Regions from separate parts of the Homo sapiens genome. Here all the other regions are reported to be linked to region 4. Evidence: microRNA targets listed by miRTarBase, many of them from high-throughput screens and not tested one by one. Region 4 holds a microRNA gene; each other region holds the end of a gene's coding sequence.

The links. Region 4 holds the annotated microRNA hsa-miR-6769a-5p (AGGUGGGUAUGGAGGAGCCCU, at 3,047-3,067, opposite strand). A microRNA usually pairs through its seed, bases 2 to 8, with sites in the 3' UTR of a target mRNA and lowers its output. Matches are read on the target gene's strand: a 7mer-m8 pairs with bases 2 to 8, a 7mer-A1 pairs with bases 2 to 7 and ends in A, and an 8mer does both.
Region 1: the mRNA of RBCK1 is a reported target of hsa-miR-6769a-5p. Seed matches in the 3' UTR shown: 7mer-A1 at 3,321-3,327 and 7mer-m8 at 2,546-2,552.
Region 2: the mRNA of ZNF561 is a reported target of hsa-miR-6769a-5p. Seed matches in the 3' UTR shown: 7mer-A1 at 1,436-1,442.
Region 3: miRTarBase lists ZNF251 as a target of hsa-miR-6769a-5p. Seed matches in the 3' UTR shown: 7mer-A1 at 3,324-3,330.
Region 5: miRTarBase lists CYP4A11 as a target of hsa-miR-6769a-5p. Seed matches in the 3' UTR shown: 7mer-m8 at 3,546-3,552 and 7mer-m8 at 2,928-2,934.

Annotation. Positions count from the first base shown.
Region 1 is chr20:430,046-434,045 of GRCh38, reverse strand. It overlaps RBCK1 (RANBP2-type and C3HC4-type zinc finger containing 1), which reads right to left. Exons shown (of 12, transcript NM_031229.4): 12 at 1,907-3,696. The coding sequence ends at 3,616. Among named protein-coding and RNA genes, the nearest start is that of RBCK1, 24 kb to the right of the region's middle. RefSeq lists enhancers at 3,075-3,575, 3,576-4,000.
Region 2 is chr19:9,606,821-9,610,820 of GRCh38, forward strand. ZNF561 (zinc finger protein 561) reads right to left here. Exons shown (of 6, transcript NM_152289.3): 6 at 509-4,000. The coding sequence ends at 3,380. Among named protein-coding and RNA genes, the nearest start is that of ZNF561, 12 kb to the right of the region's middle.
Region 3 is chr8:144,717,852-144,721,851 of GRCh38, forward strand. ZNF251 (zinc finger protein 251) reads right to left here. Exons shown (of 5, transcript NM_138367.2): 5 at 3,058-4,000. The coding sequence ends at 3,793. Among named protein-coding and RNA genes, the nearest start is that of ARHGAP39, 34 kb to the left of the region's middle.
Region 4 is chr16:4,670,241-4,674,389 of GRCh38, reverse strand. It overlaps MIR6769A (microRNA 6769a), which reads right to left and starts at 3,072; the gene lies at 3,000-3,072. MGRN1 (mahogunin ring finger 1) reads right to left here. Exons shown (of 17, transcript NM_015246.4): 9 at 2,931-2,999; 10 at 733-892. RefSeq lists enhancers at 145-732, 733-1,322.
Region 5 is chr1:46,926,381-46,930,380 of GRCh38, forward strand. CYP4A11 (cytochrome P450 family 4 subfamily A member 11) reads right to left here. Exons shown (of 12, transcript NM_000778.4): 12 at 2,808-3,930. The coding sequence ends at 3,735. Among named protein-coding and RNA genes, the nearest start is that of CYP4A11, 13 kb to the right of the region's middle.

The DNA of each region.
Region 1 (4,000 bases), not on the chromosome of region 4:
GGGCAACAGAGCAAAACTCCGTCTCAAAAAAAAAACAAAAAAAACCCCAAAACTTGAGATTGCAGTGGCTGCCAGTCGCTCCCATCCCTAACCCTGTTCATCTCAAGCGTGGCTGTTCCTGCCCACACTGCATCCTTGAGGACACCACACCAGGAAGCGTCAGGGCAGGGTGATCTTCAGTTCTGAGTCACTCAGGCAAATTATTGAACCTGAGGGGGTGGAGTCATGGGAACCCCTGAATGTGTAGTTGGCCAGGAAGTGTGGGTAGCCCAGGAAGTGTGGGTAGCCCAGGAAGTGTGGGTAGCCTGGGCACCCCATCTGTGACTCCATCGGAAGTGTGGGACTGAGCCCTTTAATCTGTGGAACCTGACACTAGCCCCAGTTGGTGTCAGAGAGCTGGAAAAGTGGTGTCAGACAACACCACACAGTATGCAAGGCTGAGGGGAAACGCCAGTGTAAAAATAACACGTAACAAGTGTAGGTGGTTTGGGGCCAACAAAGCCCGGGAGGGCTCGGGTTTAGGGTCTGTGGAGCACTGGGGCCGGGCAGGATGGCTGTAGTGCTGTGGAGAGTTGAGGCTGCCTTAGGGATGATTTGGGGGTGAAGATAGGCCTTGACCTGAGCTGGGTTTGGAGGGAGAATTATTAGTGGCCTGATGGGGTCTTAGACTGAGGGTCGAGTGTGTTCCTTCCTTCCTGGCTGGGTGAGCATCTAAGTCACTGCCTCTCGGAGGCTCACGTCCATAACAGTAAAGCAGGGATGGTCTTGGCCCTCCTGGAGGGCTTCCTGCAAGGGTGTTGGTGAAATGTGTTTCTATTTGTGAAGCTGTGCTAGTGCTGTTGCCATTTTCATGAGCAGTTACCAATCAACAAACACTTGTAGCCAGCCCTGCACCGGGCCCACGATCACCCAGGGATGAAGTGGTGACCGAAAGCAGGAACAGGCCGGAGCCTTCACCAGCTAAGAGGTGAGACCCTCAGCTGGGGCTGAGACCCAGCCTGGCTGTATCTTCCTCCCCCTGCCACTGTCCCCTCTGGTGTTCTGCTGGTGGCCCCTGCTGCCAATTCCTGCTCCTCACGAGGGCCCCTGCTCCCTGGTCTTTTCTCCAGACTTCCTCATGGTTGGCACTTGGGATCACCAGGCTGCGGGCTCACCTTCAGCTGCCTGCATTTGAGCAGATTCCATGCCAGCCCCAAGCACTAGAGGAAGACACCAGTGAGCGCCGGCATAGGCCGACGGGCTACCCTCCGTGGCAGCTGCTCTTTATCTGAGCAATGGGCTTCCACTCACCTTCCCCTGCCCCTGTCCTGCCCCTGAGGAGAGAATGATGATCATTGTGTCACTCAAGTACCTTTGGGACCTCTTGCTGCTTCCTCTCGATGGTTTGAGTCCAAAGCCCTGGGGTTTGGTTTTCGTTCGGCCCTGGAGAGTTGGTGCTGGCCTCTCAAGTTCTGGGCCCCTGGCATGGGTGAGCCTTGGGAGGTGGAGGCACCTCCACCTGACCCTGCAGTAGAGGGTGCCCTGGGCCTGCTCGTCTTAAGACCTTTCACTTGCAGGTGCAAGGCGGGTGGAGCTGAGGCAGGAACCGGGGTTGGCCCTACACAGCTCCCTGCTCCTCCGCACCACTGCAGCATGGATGGGGCAGGCCGAGCAAAGCCACAGCCAGCACAGCCCTCTCTGCTGGTCTCGCCCTCACCTGTGATACGCCGCGCGTAGAGCCCCACTTCATCTTCCTCTTACGAGAAAAAGGATGGTGCAAGGGCACTGGAAAGGCCTCGGCGTGAGTCCTGGGGTGGTGAGGACTGTGGCAAACTGGAGGGTGTACACCCCATGAAGAGATTTGACATCTCTGTGACTCCATTCCCCCCAGGTAGAAGTGAGGACCTGGCATTACCAAGCTTTGACATTTTCAAGAGAAGCAGGGCATCTAGATTTTAATGTGGTAAACGATGTTGCCAATTTAAAAAGATGGGCAACCGATTTAAATTTCTAAAACAACACTGGGTGGACTGGTTACAGCCTGTGGTACCACAAGAGAACAATCTCTGCTTTTGTCTCATGCCCAGGCTCCTGAGAGACACCAGGCCAGGCCCTGGCAAGAGAGGGGAGAGTGGGTATGAGACAGCGTCTGCCTGAGCTGGTCCCATCCACACGCCTGCAGCCTGGCTCTCCTCTGCTTTTTCTGTTTCCTCCCAGTCAGTGGTTCTGCCTGGGCCTTTCTGCCTCCAGGGCCGGGGAGGCTGCCTGAGTGTGCCCCTCATCCTCTGCGACGGTTGACTGCCCTGAGCCAATGCAGGCAGTGCCGAAGGACCCAGTCCACTCACACATTCTCAGACAGCTCTGCGCACAGTGACTGGGGCCAGCTCTTGAGTCCTGGCATCCAACGGCAGGTGGCAGTGCCTTTCCAGTTGCTAGAACAGGCCCTTCCCCACAAAATCACAGGCCTTCAGCAGCAGAGGCGCCCTCTGCCTGCTATGATGATGGTCACGTCACAGCGTGGACAATGTGTTGGGCATCAAATACCAGATCTCAAAAGGGGAAGGAGGGTGGGTCACAGAGCGGAGGAAAGACTTAGAGAATGAACATCCCAGGACCCTGTCTTAGTAACCTCCGACCAGCACAGAGTGGGTTCTAGTAAATACTGCTGAATCGATACTGTGCCATCTTGCTTGAGACGAGAAAATAGGATGGACAACCCCACCCCTCAACTGCAGCAGCTTCGTTCCTTCTTGAACTATCTACCTGCCAACCCTAGATGCCTGCTGAGAGGTCAAAAGGGAGCAGGAGTGGCAAGACTTCCCCTCCCGCCCCTAAGCCCATCCTTCTCTGCAGACTTGACACACTGCACACTCCACCTGTCCTGGCTGACGGTGACCCAAGAGCATCCTTGCCCCTGAGGCTGGGCATGGGGTCCACATCTGGTAGAAAGGTCCCAGTGCTCAGTCACAGCCTCATTCTACCACAGATGGACTGACAAGTCAACTTTCTGATGCAGTTCCCAGAGACCTCAGGATCCTGCCTGTGTGTAGAGTCCCAGGCCAGGACATTCATTTCCTCTCAAGGACATCACACTCATCCCTTCCCGGAAAACCATTTTAATTATAATAGCTTACACAGGCTGCAGAGAGGGAGACGCAGAGCCGGACCTGACGGGCTGTGCTTTCAAAACTGTGCAGTCTCCTTCCTGGCTCTGAACAGGTTAGCAAGAGTTCCAAGAGGCCTCAGGCCTCCAACCACAAAGGCAGAGAAGTTAGCCCCAGAAAGCTGACAGCTGAAGGCGGGGAGGCTGAGAGTGCTTGGTGTTTGACAGATGAGTGTTGTGGTGGGAGGAGTATGGAGTCACACAGAGGCTCCACCCAGCAAGGCCTCTGGCCAGGGGCTATGTTTAAGGCTGGGGTCAGGCAGAGGTGGGAGCCGCAGGGGAGAGAAGTCTGGCCGGCAAGCCCCAAGGGAAGGACAAAGGCACTGGGGCAGATGTGACCGTGGACAACCGCAGTGCAGGCAGGGCCCCTACAACGCTACAGCAAGCAAGGCCGTCCACGAAGCTCCCTGAGCTACATTCTAACAGAATGTGGATGTGGGGCTGGGTCAGCATGTGGCCCCACCATCTTTAGCTCAGTGGCAGTTCTGACAGCTTGGGTGGCAAGGAATCCCATTTACCCTGCAGCGGCAGCCCCCGCTGGTGTCTCCTGGGCCCTAGAGGATGGGAGGAAGAGAAGAGAATGTCAGCGCAGTGCAGAGACTGCCCCCACAGCCGAGCGCTCTCCCACCCCGGGCCTTTGCCTCTGCAGGTCCTCCTGCAAGAATGGCCTGGTCAGCCTCAGCTACCTGATGGAGAGTCACTGAGGCCTTTTCTGGGCTCCCACAGCACTCAGTCTACCCACGCCTAGATCCGGGAACAGGCCAGGGAGAGGATCTGACCACTCTGCATATTCTAGACATGTCAGCATGCGAGAGGGCAGTTTCCTCTGCCTCCACCTGTCTGAAAGTCTACCTGAAC
Region 2 (4,000 bases), not on the chromosome of region 4:
AAGGTTGATGTAACACTAGAAATGTAATAAATACAAAAACACATTTATTTTATTTTATTTCTGATGGAGTCTCACTCTGTCACCAAGGCTGGAGTGCAGTGGCACAATCTACACTTAATGCAACCTCCACCTCCCAGGTTCAAGCGATTCTCCTGCTTCAGCCTCCTGCGTAGCTGGAATTCCAGGTGCACACAACCACACCCAGCTAATTTCTGTATTTTTAGTAGAGATGGGGCTTCACCATGTTGGCCAGGCTGGTCTCGAACTCCTGACCTCAAGTGATCTGCCCATCCCTGCCTCCCAAAGTGCTGGTATTACAGGCATGAGCCACCACACCCAACCTGACCACATTTATTTTAGAGATGAGTCCTTCCATGCATTCATTCATTCGTTTTGTTTTTTGTTTTTTGAGATGTGGTCTTGCTATGTTGTCTAAGCTGGTCTAGAACCCCTGGGTTCAGGCCATCCTCCCAAGTAGCTAGAACTATAGACATGCATCACCACATCATTTCATTGAAGTATTTATTACATACCATCATTGGCCAGGAACAGTTCTAGGTACTTGAGTTCTAGCAGTAAATAAACATGATCATCACAGAGGATGCACAGGAAGCATTTAATAAATTCAAGAGGAATTCAGCCTCATGAATTATGAAATACTGGGAAATCATTCATCATGTAAAAACTGGATATAAAAAGAAACCTTTCCTGTAAGAGATTAGCCTCTTCAAAAAATAAAATAAAAACCTACAGCCAAGCCAATAAAATAGAGCACGTATCTCAGCAGAACTGCAGACAATTATGCTGGTATTACTGCTATTCATTGGTGGTGTGCTGGAGGTTGAAATTAGTCCAGTAAAGCAAGAAAATATATATATAGGTATAACCTAACGACTAAAGTGGAAAAGTAAGAGTCATTATTTACAGATTATGTGATTGTCTATGTGGAAACGGAAAAGAATCATATTAAGTACTTTGGACTGAATGATAACCCTGAAAATTCATATGTTGAAGCTCCAAATCCCAATGTGACTGTATGTGAAAATAGGGTTTTTTAGTTTTGTTTTTGAGACAGAGTCTCGCTCTGTTGTCCAGGCTGGAATGCAGTGGCTGCGATCTCGGCTCACTGCAACCTGTGCCTCCCAGGTTCATGCCATTCTCCTGCCTCAGCCTCCCGAGTAGCTGGGACTGCAGGTACCCGCCACCACGCCAGGCTAATTTTTTGTATTTGTAGTAGAGACAGGGTTTCACCGTGTTAACTAGGACAGTCTCGATCTCCTGACCTCGTGATCCGCCCACCTCGGCCTCCCAAAGTGCTGGGATTACAGGTGTGAGCCACCGCGCCCGGCCTGAAAATAGGCTCTTTAGAAGTATCGTGAAATGATGTCAAGAGATGGGTAGGGGGAGGGAGGGGGAGGGAGGGGAAGGAGAGAGATGGTGGGGAGAGAGAGAGAAAGAGGAGAGAGGAGAGAGGAGAAAGGAGAGAGGAGAGAGAGACCTATTTGTTGGTTTCCTTCCTGTGAAGACATGAGGAAGTGGGCATTTACATACCAGGAAGAGAGCTCTCGCCAGAAGTTGACCATGCTGGCACTCTGATCTCAGACTTCCAGCCTCGAGAAATGTGAGAATATAAATTTGTTTTTAACCTCATTTATTTAAAATTAACAAATTTGTAAGCCATTTGGTCTGTGGTATTTTGTGATAGTGGCCTGAGCTCATTAAGGCAGATTAAAAACAAACAAACAAAAAAACTAAAAATGTGAAGCAGATTTGAAACTGACAAATGAGGCTGGAAAAATTCTGATGTGCAAGCTGGAAGTAAGGTTGGTAAGGGTGATCCTGGTGAGGTGTCATTGGGGAATGAGGAACATGCTATTGGGAAATAAAGAAAATACAACCCTTGATACGAAGTAGTGAAGAACTTGGCAGAACTGTATTCTAGCACTTTGCGGAAGGTAGAGCTTGAGAGAGATAAAACTGGTTATGTATCACTAAGATCTGTACTTAAAGTGTTAAAGGACACAGGAAGCTTCATTCTTCCTGAGTGCTTACAGGAAAATGTGCTCAGAACAGGCCCCCCAAATTTGGACATAAACAGGCCATGAGAAACTGCCCATAAACAAAATCTCTGCGGCACTGTGACATGCTCGTGATGGCTATGACACCCATGCTGGAGGTTGCTGGTTTACCCGAATGAGGGCAAGGAACACCTGGCCCACCCACGGTGGAAAACTGGAAAACTGCTCAGGCATTCCTAAACCACAAACAATACCATGAGTGATTTGTGCCTTAAGGACATGTTCCTGTTGCAGATAACAAGCCAGAGCCTGTCCCTTTCTTTCTTGTAAGGAATACTTTTAGCTAATCTATAATCTATAGAAATAATGTTTATCACAGGCTTACTGTCAATAAATATGTGGGTCAAACTCTGTTCAAGGCTCTCAGCTCTGAAGGCTGTGAGCCCCGATTCCCACTCTGCACTCTATTTCTGTGTCTTTGTCTTAATTCCTCTAGAGCTGCTGGGTCAGGGTCTCCATGACCCAGCTGGTCTCAGCAAAAATGCAAAAGGAGACCTGAATTGCAGAAAAAATTGTTAAGGAAAAAGGAACCAGAACTTGGAGATTTGGAAAATTCTCAGCCTATCCATAATGCAAAAATTAGAAAACTTGTACTGAAGAGAATCCTCAAAGTGTGGCTGAACGATCATCTGATAAAGAGATCATGAGTGGGATTCATGGACTATATCAGCCACCTTGACAGAAGTGAGAAGAGAGACTGGATTATACTAGAAGAGACATTGCCACTTACATTGTGCCATCTAAAATAGACATACAAGGCAGAACAGGCAAGGCTGTCACACTTCTTAGATTTTACAAGGGGACACAGAAATAATCAGCTGTGAAAGGGCACTGGCAGTTATGGATGGTTTCATTCCTGACACGCTCTGCAGGATCCGTGGGATCAGAAGAGACCCTTGGAGGAGCATCTCTTAACAACCCACCTTTGGGGTCCTACATCATCTTGGCTTCTGGTAAATTTTGACATAAATGTGCCACACTGGCAGCCACTAACCAACAGGGGCTGGGGTCAATCTGCATGATTTATCTCATACACAACTTGTTAATGCTATGATCTTAGGAATCTAATCACCAAGGTGAGGCAGCCTGCAGTACTGACCTCACCATCCATGACCCTTCTTCACAGATGCCCAGACTCAGGCAACCATGATGTTGTATTCAGAACCTGTAGGTTTAATTTCAGACCCTCAGGATGGTATCTAAGGCCAATCCATGAGTCATTACAACCTCCAAAAGGCATTTAGGACAAATCTGATAATCTTTGGTGTCATTGCCAATAATTAAAGATGGCAACCGATGGGCTAAATGGTAACACTCATATCCTTGCATTCATAGGGTTTCTCCCCAGTGTGAATTCTTTCATGTCTACTTAGGCGTGAGGAAACAGCAAATGCTTTCCCACATTCTTTACATACGAAGGGTTTCTCTCCGGTATGAGTTCGCAGGTGAACATTAAGGCGTGAGGAATATAGAAATGCTTTCCCACATATCTTGCATACAAAGGGCTTTTCTCCACTATGAGTTTTCAAATGTTTACTACGACGGGAAGAAGTAATGAAGGTCTTCCCACATTCAACACATTCATAAGGCTTCTCTCCTGTGTGAATTCTTGTATGCTGAATAAGACTTGTGGATGTAGTGAAGGCTTTCCCACATTCCTTACACTGATAGGGTTTCTTTCCACTGTGACTTCGTATGTGTATAGAAAGGCCCGAGTACTGAGCAAAGGCTTGGCCACATTCCTTACATTCATAGGGTTTTATTCCAGTGTGAGTTCTTACATGTTCAGTAAGTTGAGTTGATCTAGTGAAGGCTTTCCCACAGTAAGTACACTTGTGTGGTTTTATTCCAGTGTGAATTTGAATGTGATCATTAAGGCATGAGGAATTTCTAAAGGATCTTCCACATTCTTTACATTCAAA
Region 3 (4,000 bases), not on the chromosome of region 4:
CAGGTGGGAAGCTCTGACTTTCATTTCGGTCTTCATTTTTACCCCTGAGGTGTTCCCTTGCTCTCTTGGTGCTTAACCATGCATTGTCCTACTAACATCCTCAGTCCCAGGGTCCACAGCAAGTACGTGTCACAACAGCCCTTAGAGCCACCCACAAGCCCTCCCATGCCCCGGTGCTTCCTTCCATTCTACGTAAATGTGAGGCCTGTGGGCCTCTTAAGGGAGGCATCATTGTGGGACCTTTCCAGTAGATCAGAAGGAGAAAACAATTTTAATGTACCCAGTGTGCTCATGGACAGAGCAGAAGCAGAACACAAGGTTCACATTTACGCAAAGCACATTCTTGGCACTGTTTCCTTTCTCTGCCTCCTTCACCTCTCTTCCTTCCTTCCCAAGTACATCCTAAGCACCTGTTCTGTATCGTGTGCTGGAGATAAAAAGGTGCATAAGACAACATCTCTGACAGCAGAGAGTTCTCCGTATAATGTAGGGTAACGAGGTAGAAAGGAAAATGTAAGTTGAAATGGTGGGGATATGAATGTTGTGCTGTGGGATACAAGGGTAAAAGAGTTATTTTTTAGACGTGGGGGAGGTGTTTTTTTCCCCCATTTTAGAGCTGGAGAAAAAGAGACCCAAGAAGATTCAGTGTTTTCCCTGAGGTCAGAGTGAATCCATTTCAGAGGGAGACAGGACCCTCCAGGTGAGCCTGTGCTATCCACTCCCTCTTTTGTGTGGACCATTCCACATGGACCACACTAAGGCTGGCAATTCCCACACTTGGAAGAGGTTCTGTGATAAGAATTTTAATAATAAAGTGGGGGAGACAGAACCTGAGCGGGGGAATAAGCGCAGCAAATCACAGAATGGATGTTAAACCAAATGTAGCGGTGACCCCAAATTCCCTAAGAAAACAGTAAGGCCAGGCGCCGTGGCTCACGCCTGTAAGACCTGCACTTTGGAAGGGCAAGGTGGGTGGATCGCTTGACTCCAAGAGTTCAAGACCAGCCTGGGCAACATGGTGTGACACCATCTTTACAAAAAATTAAAAAATTATCTGGGTATGGTGGTGTGTGCCTGTAGTCCCAGCTACTTGGGAGCTGAGGTCGGAGGGTTGCTTGAGCCCAGGAAGTCAAGGCTGCAGTGACCTGTGATCGCTTCACTGCACTCCAGCCTGGGTGATAAGAGTGAGACACTGTCTCAAAAGAAAAAAAGAAAACAAAGATGGAATGAGAGATTAACTAAGGTAGGCTCCTTGAAGGGGGGAAATATTTCAGTTAGACCTGGAGGGAATGAAAGGTAGATTTGAAAAAAGATTCTTGGCCGGGCACGGTGGTTCATGCCTGTAATCCCAGCACTTTGGGAGGCCGAGGCGGGCGGATAACGAGGTCAGGAGATTGAGACCATCCTGGCTAACACAGTGAAACCCCGTCTCTACTAAAAAATACAAAAAATTAGCTGGGCGTGGTGGCGGGCGCCTGTAGTCCCAGCTACTTGGGAGGCTGAGGCAGGAGAATGGTGTGAACCCAGGAGGTGGAGCTTGCAGCGAGTAGAGATTGCGCCATTGCACTCCAGCCTGGGCGACAGAATGAGACTCCGTCTCAAAAAAAAAAAAAGAAAAGAAAAGAAAAGAAAAAAGATTCTTGCAGGTAGAGTCTCAGAATTGAAAATCAGAGGCCGGGCGTGGTGGCTCACACCTGTAATCCTAGCACTTTGGGAGGCTGAGGAGGGCGGATTATGGGGTCAGGAGTTTGAGACCACCCTGGCCAACATGGTGAAACCCCGTCTCTAAGAAAAATACAAAAATTAGCTGGGCGTGGTGGCACGCGTCTGTAGTCCCAGCTACTCGGGAGGCTGAGGCAGAAGAATCGCTTGAACCTGGGAGGCGGAGGTTGCAGTGAGTTGAGATCGTGCCACTGCACTCCAGCCTGGGTGACAACGCGAGACTTTGTTTCAGAAAAAAGGAGAAAAAAAAAAAGAATTGAAGATCAGAATTTCACAGGTGATCACACTCTGAGAAACTACTACAGTGTTATTCAAACTTCCCAATGAAACTCTTTAAATAGATGCTTACTGATCAAACCATGGTCAATAGGAGAATGCAAATTAAAACCATGGATACCACTACATCTCCACTAAAATAGCTAGAATATTAAAAAATGGACAATACTGCTGGGCACGTTGGCTTATGCCTGTAATCCCAGCGCTTTGGGAGGCTGAGGTGGGTGGATCACCTGAGGTCGGGAGTTGGAGACCAGCCTGACCAACATAGAGAAACCCCGTCTCTACTAAAAATACAAAATTAGCCGGGCGTGGTGGTGCATGCCTCTAATCCCAGCTTCTCAGGAGGCTGAGGCAGGAGAACCGTTTGAATTGAACCCGGGAGGCGGAGGTTGTGGTGAGCCGTGATCGCGCCATTGCACTCCAGCCTGGGCAACAAGAGCAAAACTCCGCCTCGGAAAAAAAAAAAAAAAAAAAAGGACAATACCAAGATCTGGTGAGGATTCAAAGCAACTAAACTCACACATCATCAGTGGGGATATACAACTGACTTTGTAAAAGTTTGGCAGTTTCTTAAAATGTTAAACATAAGCTTACCATATGACCCAGCAATCCCACTCCTATTTACCCAAGATAACTGAAAAGTTAGATTCACAAAACAGCCTGTAGTTGATACACAGTGATGGCAGCTTTAATCATAGTTGCCCATACTGAAAATGCCCAAATACCCTGCCATGGGTGAACGGATAAACAAATGGCTCCATCCATACAATGGAATGCTACTCGGTGCAAAAAAGCACTCTACACAGGCAATATGGATGACTCCAATGCATCATGTTCAGTAAAAGCAGCCACGTGCAAACAGCTGCACACTATTTCTGGAAATGGTGAGGTGATGGATAGAGGATAGAAAACAAACCAGTGGTTTCCACGGACTGGGGTTGAGGAGGGGTTAACCACAAGAGAGCACAAAGGAATTCTGGGTGGTGGTGAAGATGTTCAATGTCTGGAATGTGGTAGTGGCACAATTGTATGTTTTTGTCAAAGCCCAAAGAACTATACACTAAAAAGAGTAAATTTTATTGTTTATAAATTATGCTTCAATAAACCTGCCTTTAAAAAATTTTTTATCAGTAATTACAATTTTCAAAAGTGGAGATACTTGGTAGGCCCCTGCTTTCTTGGCCCCTAAGGTCCCTCTCTCTGTTAAACTGTAGAGCTCCTTAGAACCAAAACCAAACCACCTTTCATTTTAATGAAAATGAAATGCAAAAACTGGGGCTCCAAGCAAGGAAGAAACGTCTACCTGCAGTTCATCTGGGGGTTGGTGGGAGAGGTGGTGGAGAGAGTAAGGCTAAGCGCCCCCAGCAGGCCCAAGTTCTCTGTACCACACTTGGAGGCAGGTATATGGGACTGAAAGTGGATGTTCTCAGCCACAAGCCTGGGCCTGGATAGGAAACAAAGGATAAGACTGGAAGGATGTCAGGTAGGGTAGACCCAGAGCACCAGCTGGGCTCACTTTTCACGCCCTCCATCCATTCGTCATGAGTATCCGGATACAGCACCACACGGTTCAACTCCTGAGCACAGCAGTAACCTTTACACAGACAGCCTGATTTCCCAGAATGAATTCTCGTGTTTACTTCCAGATTTAATGACTTTGACTTTAGTAGTCATCTGAACTATTTATTTTACTTTGCCAGTAATATTTAGACCTTATATATCTTTCATTATGCCATCTTATCTTCTAATGTCAAGTGAACAGTTGCTAAACTGTCTTCTGCATTTATCACATTAAAAATGTCTTTCTTGGAAAATCTTCTTGATATGAATAAAGTATCTTTTAGAGCCATCATTTAAAGCAGGTTTCTCTCCAACACGAGTCTGCTGAGGTGGTGTGAGCTGTGAACTCTGGCTGAAGGCTTTCCCATACACACTGCAATGACATGGTTTCTGACCAGTGTGAGTTACCTGATGTTGAATAAGGGTTGACTTTCCACTG
Region 4 (4,149 bases):
TTAAACCCGGGAGGCGGAGTTTGCAGTGAGCCGAGACTGCAACACTGCACTCCAGCCTGGGTGACAGAGCGAGACTCTATCTCAAAAAAATAAAATAAAATAAAATAGCCAGGCATGGTGGCTCATGCCTGTAACACCAGCACTTTGAGAGGCTGAGGCAGGCAGATTACTTGAGGCCAGGAGTTCAAGACCAGCCTGGCCAACATGGCAAAACCCCATCTCTAATAAAAGTAAAATATTAGCTGGCCATGGTGGCAGTTGCCTGCAATCCCAGCTACTAGGGAGGCTGAGACAGGAGAATTGCTTGAACTCAGGAGGCAGAGGTTACAGTAAGCTGAGAACTCGCTACTGAACTCCAGCCTGGGCGACAGCACGAAACTGTCTCAAACAAAAAATAATAAAAATAAAATAAGAATAAAGATTTCATTCACTCATCAATTTTCGTTCAGTTCATCTGCCCTGGAGCGCCTCTGTAGCCCTTTGTTCTGCAAGCCTTGCCTGGCTGGAGGCAGACGTGAAGATCTGAATGCCCCGTGCTAGCGTCCCTGCCAGCTCTCTCACGGTGACTGACTCCGACAGCCAACACGCCCACGTTCAGCACAGACTAGATGAATGACAACTCTTCTTTCTTAGCCATCAACGGACCTGTGGCCCCCTATCCCAGGACCACCGTGGTGTGGCCAGTCCCTAATTTCCAGAACCTTCCACAGAACAGCCGGCCGGGGAACTCACGCAGCCGGCAGATGGGGCAGTTGTTGGCCTGGTAGCGCAGCGTGTCGGCGCAGGAGGTACAGAGGCACAGGTGGCGGCAGGGCAGGATCAGCGTGTCCCGCAGGTCGGACAGGCACACCACACACTCGTTGCTGTTGTCGCTGTTCTCGTCGTCCGAGGGCTGCCGGGACAAGGGCTTGTGGGTCAGCAGCCTCCCAAAGGCCAGAGTACGGCTCCTGCTTCCTGTCCCCAGCTGTCCCACCCCACTCCACCCTACCCTGGGGGCTGTCATGACAAAGAGAAGTCCAGAGGGGAGGGGGAGGTTGCCCCAGAGCAGAATCACCAGGCTCAAATCCAGTGCAAACTCAGCACCTGGCAGAGGGGGAGGGTCTGTGCCCCTCACCCACCCAAATCATGAGAACATGGTCTCTTTCTGTTCTTCAGACCTAAAGAAAAAATGAGGAACAGATGCACCTAAGAAACACATCTTCCTGAGGGTCAGGGTACCCGTTATCTTTGGTTTAAAAAAAACCAAGTTAATGGTCAGGCGCGGTGGCTCACGCCTGTAATCCCAGCACTTTGGGAGGCTGAGGCGGGCAGATCACGAGGTCAGGAGATCGAGACCATCCTGGCTAACATAGTGAAACCCCGTCTCTACTAAAAATACAAAAAATTAGCCGGGCATGGTGGCACGTGCTTGTAGTTCCAGCTACTCAGGAGGCTGAGGCAGGAGAATGGCGTGAACCCAGGAGGCGGAGCTTGCAGTGGGCCAAGATGGCTGCCACTGCACTCCAGCCTGGGCAACAGAGCAAGACTCCATCTCAAAACAAACAAACAAAAAAAACAAAAAACAAGTTAATATGTTAGAAGTATTTTCATTAATGGCAGCTACCAGAAACCACATTAGCAACTGGACAAAAAGAAAGCCAAAAATCTAAAACAGGTGTCCACAAACTAGGCCTGTGGCCTGTTTCTATAAATAAAATCTTACTGGAACACCGCCACACCCACTCATTTTTATACAGTCCCCGCTGCTCCTGTTGTAATGGCAGCGTGGAGTCAGTGCAACAGAGACCATATGCCCGGGCGGCTGAAAACATTCCCTCTCTGAACCTTTTCTCAAAGTGGGCCGCCCCCTGGTATGAAACATGAATGCACTGACTTCCCTGGGTTGAGGCGAGGCCCGGCCAGGTGCTCCGCTCCCGCCACGTGGAGCTGCTCCAGTTGTCCTGGGCCCAGATGCCATAATGAAGCGGGCCTGTGAGACTTTCCAAGAGATCTTAAGAGGCAGGAGTTTCACTCATGTCAGTGTGCCTTTTAACAAGTTCATCGACCAGGCGTGGTGGTCTCAGGCCTGAAATCCCAGCACTTTGGGAGGCTGAGGCAGGCAGATCACTTGAGATCAGAAGTTTGAGACCAGCCTGGCCAACATAGTGAAACCCCATCTCTACTAAAAATACAAAAATTAAAAATTAGGCTGGGCGCGGTGGTTCACGCCTGTAATCCCAGCACTTTGGGAGGCCGAGGAGGGTGGATCACAAGGTCAGGAGATCAAGACCATCCTGGCCAACATGGTGAAACCCCGTCGCTACTAAAATACAAAAAATTAGCCGGGTGTGGTGGCGCGTGCCTGTGGTCCCAGCTACTCAGGAGGCTGAGGCAGGAGAATCGCTTGAACCCGGGAGGCGGAGGCCACAGTGAGCCAAGATCTCCCTGCTGCATTACAGCCTGAGCAGCAGAGTGAGACTGACTCAAAAAACAAAAACAAAAAAAACTAATTTCATCCCCTGCTACATTCCCTGACTGGGGTACACCACGGCTTATTTGTCAGGCACCAGGACTGGTTCTATGGACATACAGAATAAGCATCCCTCCCCCAGGAGCTGCAGGGACGTGCTGTCTCTGGGGAGGCGGGCAGGAGCCGGGCAGCAGGGTGCCACACACCTGAGCCTAGAGGGTGAGACACTGGCCCCCATTCCTGGGCTGCCCTGGGGAACCTGGATGGCAATTTACATCAGAAGCTAGTGAATTTGCTGGAGAAAGGATAAAATGTTCCCTAAACTGTTAGCTTTAAAAAAAATTAAGGAAAAATGATGTTGTCTAGCGGGTCTAGGACTCCAGGGGAAGGCATGGAAGGGAACCGGCAAGCATTGCTGTCCGCGGCTGCTCCTGGTGTGGGCTTCTGTAATGGCAGAGGGAAACCTCACCCAGATACACACCTTGGTCTCCTGGTTGTTCTTGTTCTCAATGCCATAGATCTCCTGCAGGAGGTAGCTGACCCGGTCCACCTGGAGAGCAGAGAGGGGCTCACTGGGCCCTCGCCAACTGCCATATGAGGGCTCCTCCATACCCACCTGGCCTAGCCCTGCCTCCAACTTACCAGGCTTCCATACCAGGGGTCAGTCCAGCTCAACCCCTGGGGGCCAGGAGAAGGGCAGGGAAAACCTGCTGCTTGCCCCCACCCAACCAGCAGCACCTGGAACAGGGCTGGAGCCGGTGGCTCTCCCCACTACTGGGGGCCTGAAGCCAACCCACAGGCCCAACCACCACCCCCTGACCGCCTCACCACCCCCAACACCACTTGGCTCCACCACCACCAGCCCCACGAGGAAAGCAGGAGCTGACGCCTGAAGGCACCAGACAGCAGCCTAAGTTCCCACTGCTTTCCAGATCCTCCTTCCAAAAGGCATGAAGCCTCTCTGGTTTCAAAGACGCCAAAGCAATGTCTCCAAGCTGATTCTGTCCTGCCACCCACTTGCAACCAAAAAGCCTCACGCTGACCACATTGCAAAGCGGTTTGTGCTGCTGGGTTTCCCAGAGACCATGGGCCAGGAGCACCACTCCAGGGAGCCCAGGGCCTGCTGGTCAGCTCTCTCAACACAAGGCCCTGACCATCACTGGGGTCTCCTGTTCCCCTGGTACCTGCAGGGACCTGGACCTGCTAGAGTTTGCTGCACCTCTCTTTTGTTTATTGTGATTTACATTTTAAATAGACAGGATCTCGCTACATTGCCCAGGCTGGTCTGGAATCCCCAGGCTCAAGCAATCCTCCTGCCTCCACCTCCCATAGTGCTGGGATCATAGGCATAAGCCACTGCACCTGGACAAACTCTCTTCTAAAAAGCTAACAGATGGCCGGGTGCAGTGGCTTACACCTATCATCCCAGCACTTTAGTAGGAGGCCGAGGCTGGTGGATCACTTGAGCCCAAAAGTTTGAGACCAGCTTGGCCAACATGGCAAAACCTCATCTCTACAAAAAATACAAAAATTAGCCAGGCATGGTGGCGCGTGCCTGTAGTCCCAGCTACTCGGGATGCTGAGGCAGAAGAATCACTTGAACCCAGGAGGTGGAGGCTACAGTAAGCTGGGATCATGCCACTGCACTCCAGCCTCGGCGACAGAGTGAGACTCCATCTCAAAAATACAAAACAAAATAA
Region 5 (4,000 bases), not on the chromosome of region 4:
ACGCCAATTTACATTCACCAGTAATTCATAAGAGTTTCAATTTCTCCATATTCTGTCCAATATTTCATATTTTCCATTAAAAAATAATTATAGCCTTTCTAAAGGATATGAAGTGGTATCTCACTGTGGTTTTGATTTGCATTTCCCCAATGACTAATGAAGTTGAGCATCTTTCCAGGTGCACTTATGGATCACTTGCATATCTTCTTTGCAGAAGTTTCTATTGAAGTCCTTTGAATTTTTGAATGGGATTGTAGTATTTTGTTGTTGTGTGTTGGAGTCCTTTACATGTTCTCATTTGATTTGTGAATATATTCTGCCATTCTGTGGGCTATCTTTCAATCCTTCTATCCATTTTTTTTTTAGTTTGTATATCATGTATGTAAAACTTCAACATCATTCTTTTACATAGAGATATTCAGGTTCTCCCTCCTTGTGCACCTTCCCTATCTCTTTGATCACTCTGAGGTCTCCACCTCTCCAATTGCAATGAGACTTTCACTTATATGATTCCCTTCCCCTCATCTTTTCAACCAGGTATTAGGGGTAGTAATGGGAGTGAGTGCACACTGTCCTGTGGTCTTTGAGTATGGCCAACATGAGCCCTTGTAAATCCCCTGATGCCAGGTGACTGGCTGGCCATCCTGTCCATGAGGTTCCCAGGTCACTCTCCTTTCCCAGTGTTTCCATCTCCCTCCACTCCTGGCTGATTACCGACTGTCCAGCCCTCCCCTTTCCTGCCTGTTCTCAGAGCAGGGCTGAATTAATCCAATGACCGGGGAACTCAGGGGACTTGGAGGGAGGTCCTAGTTGCAGGCACAAACTAGAAGAGAAGCTCTTTCAGGGTAACAGAATGAGCTTTCAGACCTCAGGCAGAGGAATTCCTCTCTATGGCATCCAAGGTCCTGGGCTAGGAATGGGCAACAGGTGAGAGGAACACCTGGGTTCAGATTTAGGAAGAGAAGCAAGGTCTGCATTGAGAGAGGCTGGGACAATCAGTGACACTATCCCAGGGGTAGTACATGGGGCCTGGGTGCTGGAACAGGGCCCAGGGTCAGCACTACCAGCACCCAGGCAGTCACCAAGTGTGGACAGGGTTGAGGATGCCCCTACCCCATCAGGGTGGCCAGCCAGAGAGGCAGACGACAACCAAGAAGTTGTGCTGTTGGGAAGGAGCTGCTTGGGGTCTGACAGCCTCTTCCACCAGCCAGACCCATTTGCCTACCTGGGCTCCTCCCACCCCTGACTGGACAGCTGCCCACTCCATGAGCTTCCAGAGAAGCCTGCAGGTTCCGTATGTGAGGAAGGTTGACAGGTACCTGGTGACGTTGCTAGGCTGGGGTCTCTTTCTACACCTCACTGGGGCTGTGGATAGCTGAATTTACAAGATCCTCATGACAGACCAGGCCTTTGAGGCTTTCTTGCTCAGCTCAGTGCAGCCTCACTATAGCTGGGATGTGGGATGTTCCCAACCAAACTCCTGAAGCCTTGATCCCCAACACAGTAGTGTTGGGAGGTGGGTCCTAGTGGGAGATATTTAGATCGTGGAGACAGATCCTTTATGAAGAGATTAGTGCCCCCTTCCACCTCACAGGCTTGAGTTTTAGCTGTATCTGGAATGGACAGGTTTCCAAGACATCGGGATCAAAACAGAGTCTTGCTTCCTTGGTCTCTCTCCTGCTTCCTCTGTCACCATGCAATCTCAGCATATGCCACTCCCCTTTTGCTTTCTGCCATGTGTGGAAGCTGCATGAGGCCTTCATCTGATTTAGCTGCCAAAACTTAAACTTTTCAGCCACCAGATCATGAGCAAAATAAACTTCTTTTCTAGATCAATTACCCAGCCTTGGGTATTCAGTTACAGTAACACAAAACACAGCAAGGCAGGCCCTTAGCTCAGCCTTGCTGTGATTCATCTTGAATCTAAATCTTGAATGGAATGGAGGCCTGGAGTCTTTTCCCTACAGGTGTGAGCTTCTCCCTCTGATCTCCTAGATAAATATCGTTTGTCTAAACTCAGCTACCATGGGAGCCTCAGGAGCTGGAGAGGGTGTGGGCACCAGGGGAGACATGGTATGAGGCTGTGTGCAGGGGGATGGATCAAACCAGGCCCTGCTAGGGTTCTGGCACAATTGGGCACACCTCATCTCCATTTTCCCTCTTCAGTAGGGATTTATCTCCCTGCCTTAGTGTCTCCTCTTCTAACCCTATCACCTTCCATGTGAAGCTGGACAAAGCATGCAAGCTTGTGAACCTTATTCTAGAGAAGAGGGAAGATAGAGGGATTGTCTGGCTGACAATCACGTATGTAGGTAGGTAGCATACAGGAGAGATTTAGATGGACACATTGGATGACAATCCGGTAGGGGCTGTGCTAGGATGAACAATGGGTCTCCATGTTGTCCACATCCTAATTCATGAAACCTGTGATTGTGGGACTGCATATGTCACAATGGACTTTTGAGTAAGTAACGGATCTTGAGGTGGTGACATTATCCTTGATTATCTTAATAAGCTTGATGTAACTAACCACAAGGGTCCTTATAAGAGGGAAAGAGATGTGAAGACAGTCACAGAGAGAGAGATTTGAAGATGCCATTGGCTTTAAAGAGGAAGGAGGGGACCGTACCAAGGAATGCAAAAAAGGCAGCTCTGGAGCTGAAAAGCCAAGGGGCAGGGCTCTCCCTGAAACCTTCTGGGGGTGGGGGTCTGGCCCTCTCCAGAACTTGTTTTAATTCAGTGAAACCCATATATCTGACTTTGACCTCCATAACTGTAAGAGAATAAAAGTCGTTATTTAAAATCACTGAGATTGTGATAGTTTATTACAGCAGTAATAGGAAACTAATATAGGAACAGACAAGCAGGCAGGAAGAAGGAGACAGGTGTATGGGCAGACAGTCTGGAGGGCAGGCAGGAGTTTGGGAGGTGGGTGGAGATTCAGGGATGTTGGGGTGTTCAGACCCAACACCAGGTCGTGGGGGTGACAAAGTCCGGCAGAGTCAAAGCAGTGAGAAAAGACAGTTTGAGAGAGAAAGTGGGTCCAGGGCGCCAAAGCTAAGGATGGAGGCTGTGAAGGCCCCGAGCTCTGGAAGTGCAGATTATTTATTGGTGATCAAACAAAGAAACAGGTGGTGAGAATGTGGGGGTCGAAAGGGCATGTTGCATTAAGCACATGATTTACAGCTGTGACGGTTTAGCATCTGCTCTGCTACTTGAGATAATGGAGAGCAGGTTCTTTTAACTCAAGATACAATTGATCCTGGGAGAGCAAGGAGCGAGGAGGCAGCAAGTTCAGACACATTCCAGAGCCACGAGCCCTGGATTCTATCCAAGCCACGAGGGGTTTTATGCCCCGGGCTTAGATTATGGTGCGTCAGGGTAGCCTTCCACCCTTCAGCACAGAGCTTGGTGTTCCAAAGGCCACAAGGGGTTTTAGACCCTGGATCCTGGACATGATCCAAGACTCTTTTACATTATGTCAGACATGCAAGCTCGGCCTCAGCTTCTCCCAACACTCAGCTTTTCTCCCAACAAGAGATACAGGTGGGTAGGAGACAGGTAGACAAGCAGGTAGGGAGCCTGGAGAAAGGTGAGAGAGAGAAGGGCAGGCAGACTGGGGGACAGCAGGCAGGTGGGAAGAAGGGAAGGTGGGCAGACAGAAAACAGGATATGGGCAGACAGGAAGGGGACAGAAGCGGGGGTCAGGAAGACAGGACGGCAGGTGGAGGCCCTCAAAGCTGGTCCTTGTCTTCACAAGGGTTAGGGAGCCTCCTGAGACGCAGGTGGATTCCATTTTTGGATTTCAACACAAGTCGTGCAATGGGGATGGGGATCCTGGTGGGATCAGGCAGCAGCTCAAAGCGGAGCAGGGTCAGGGCCGTGGCCACCTTCAGCTCGTTCATGGCAAATTGTTTCCCGATGCAGTTCCTGGGCCAGGTGGAGATAATGAATTGAGAAGTGTCCTCAGGCCCCATTCTGATCTGAGCAGGTTTTGGCC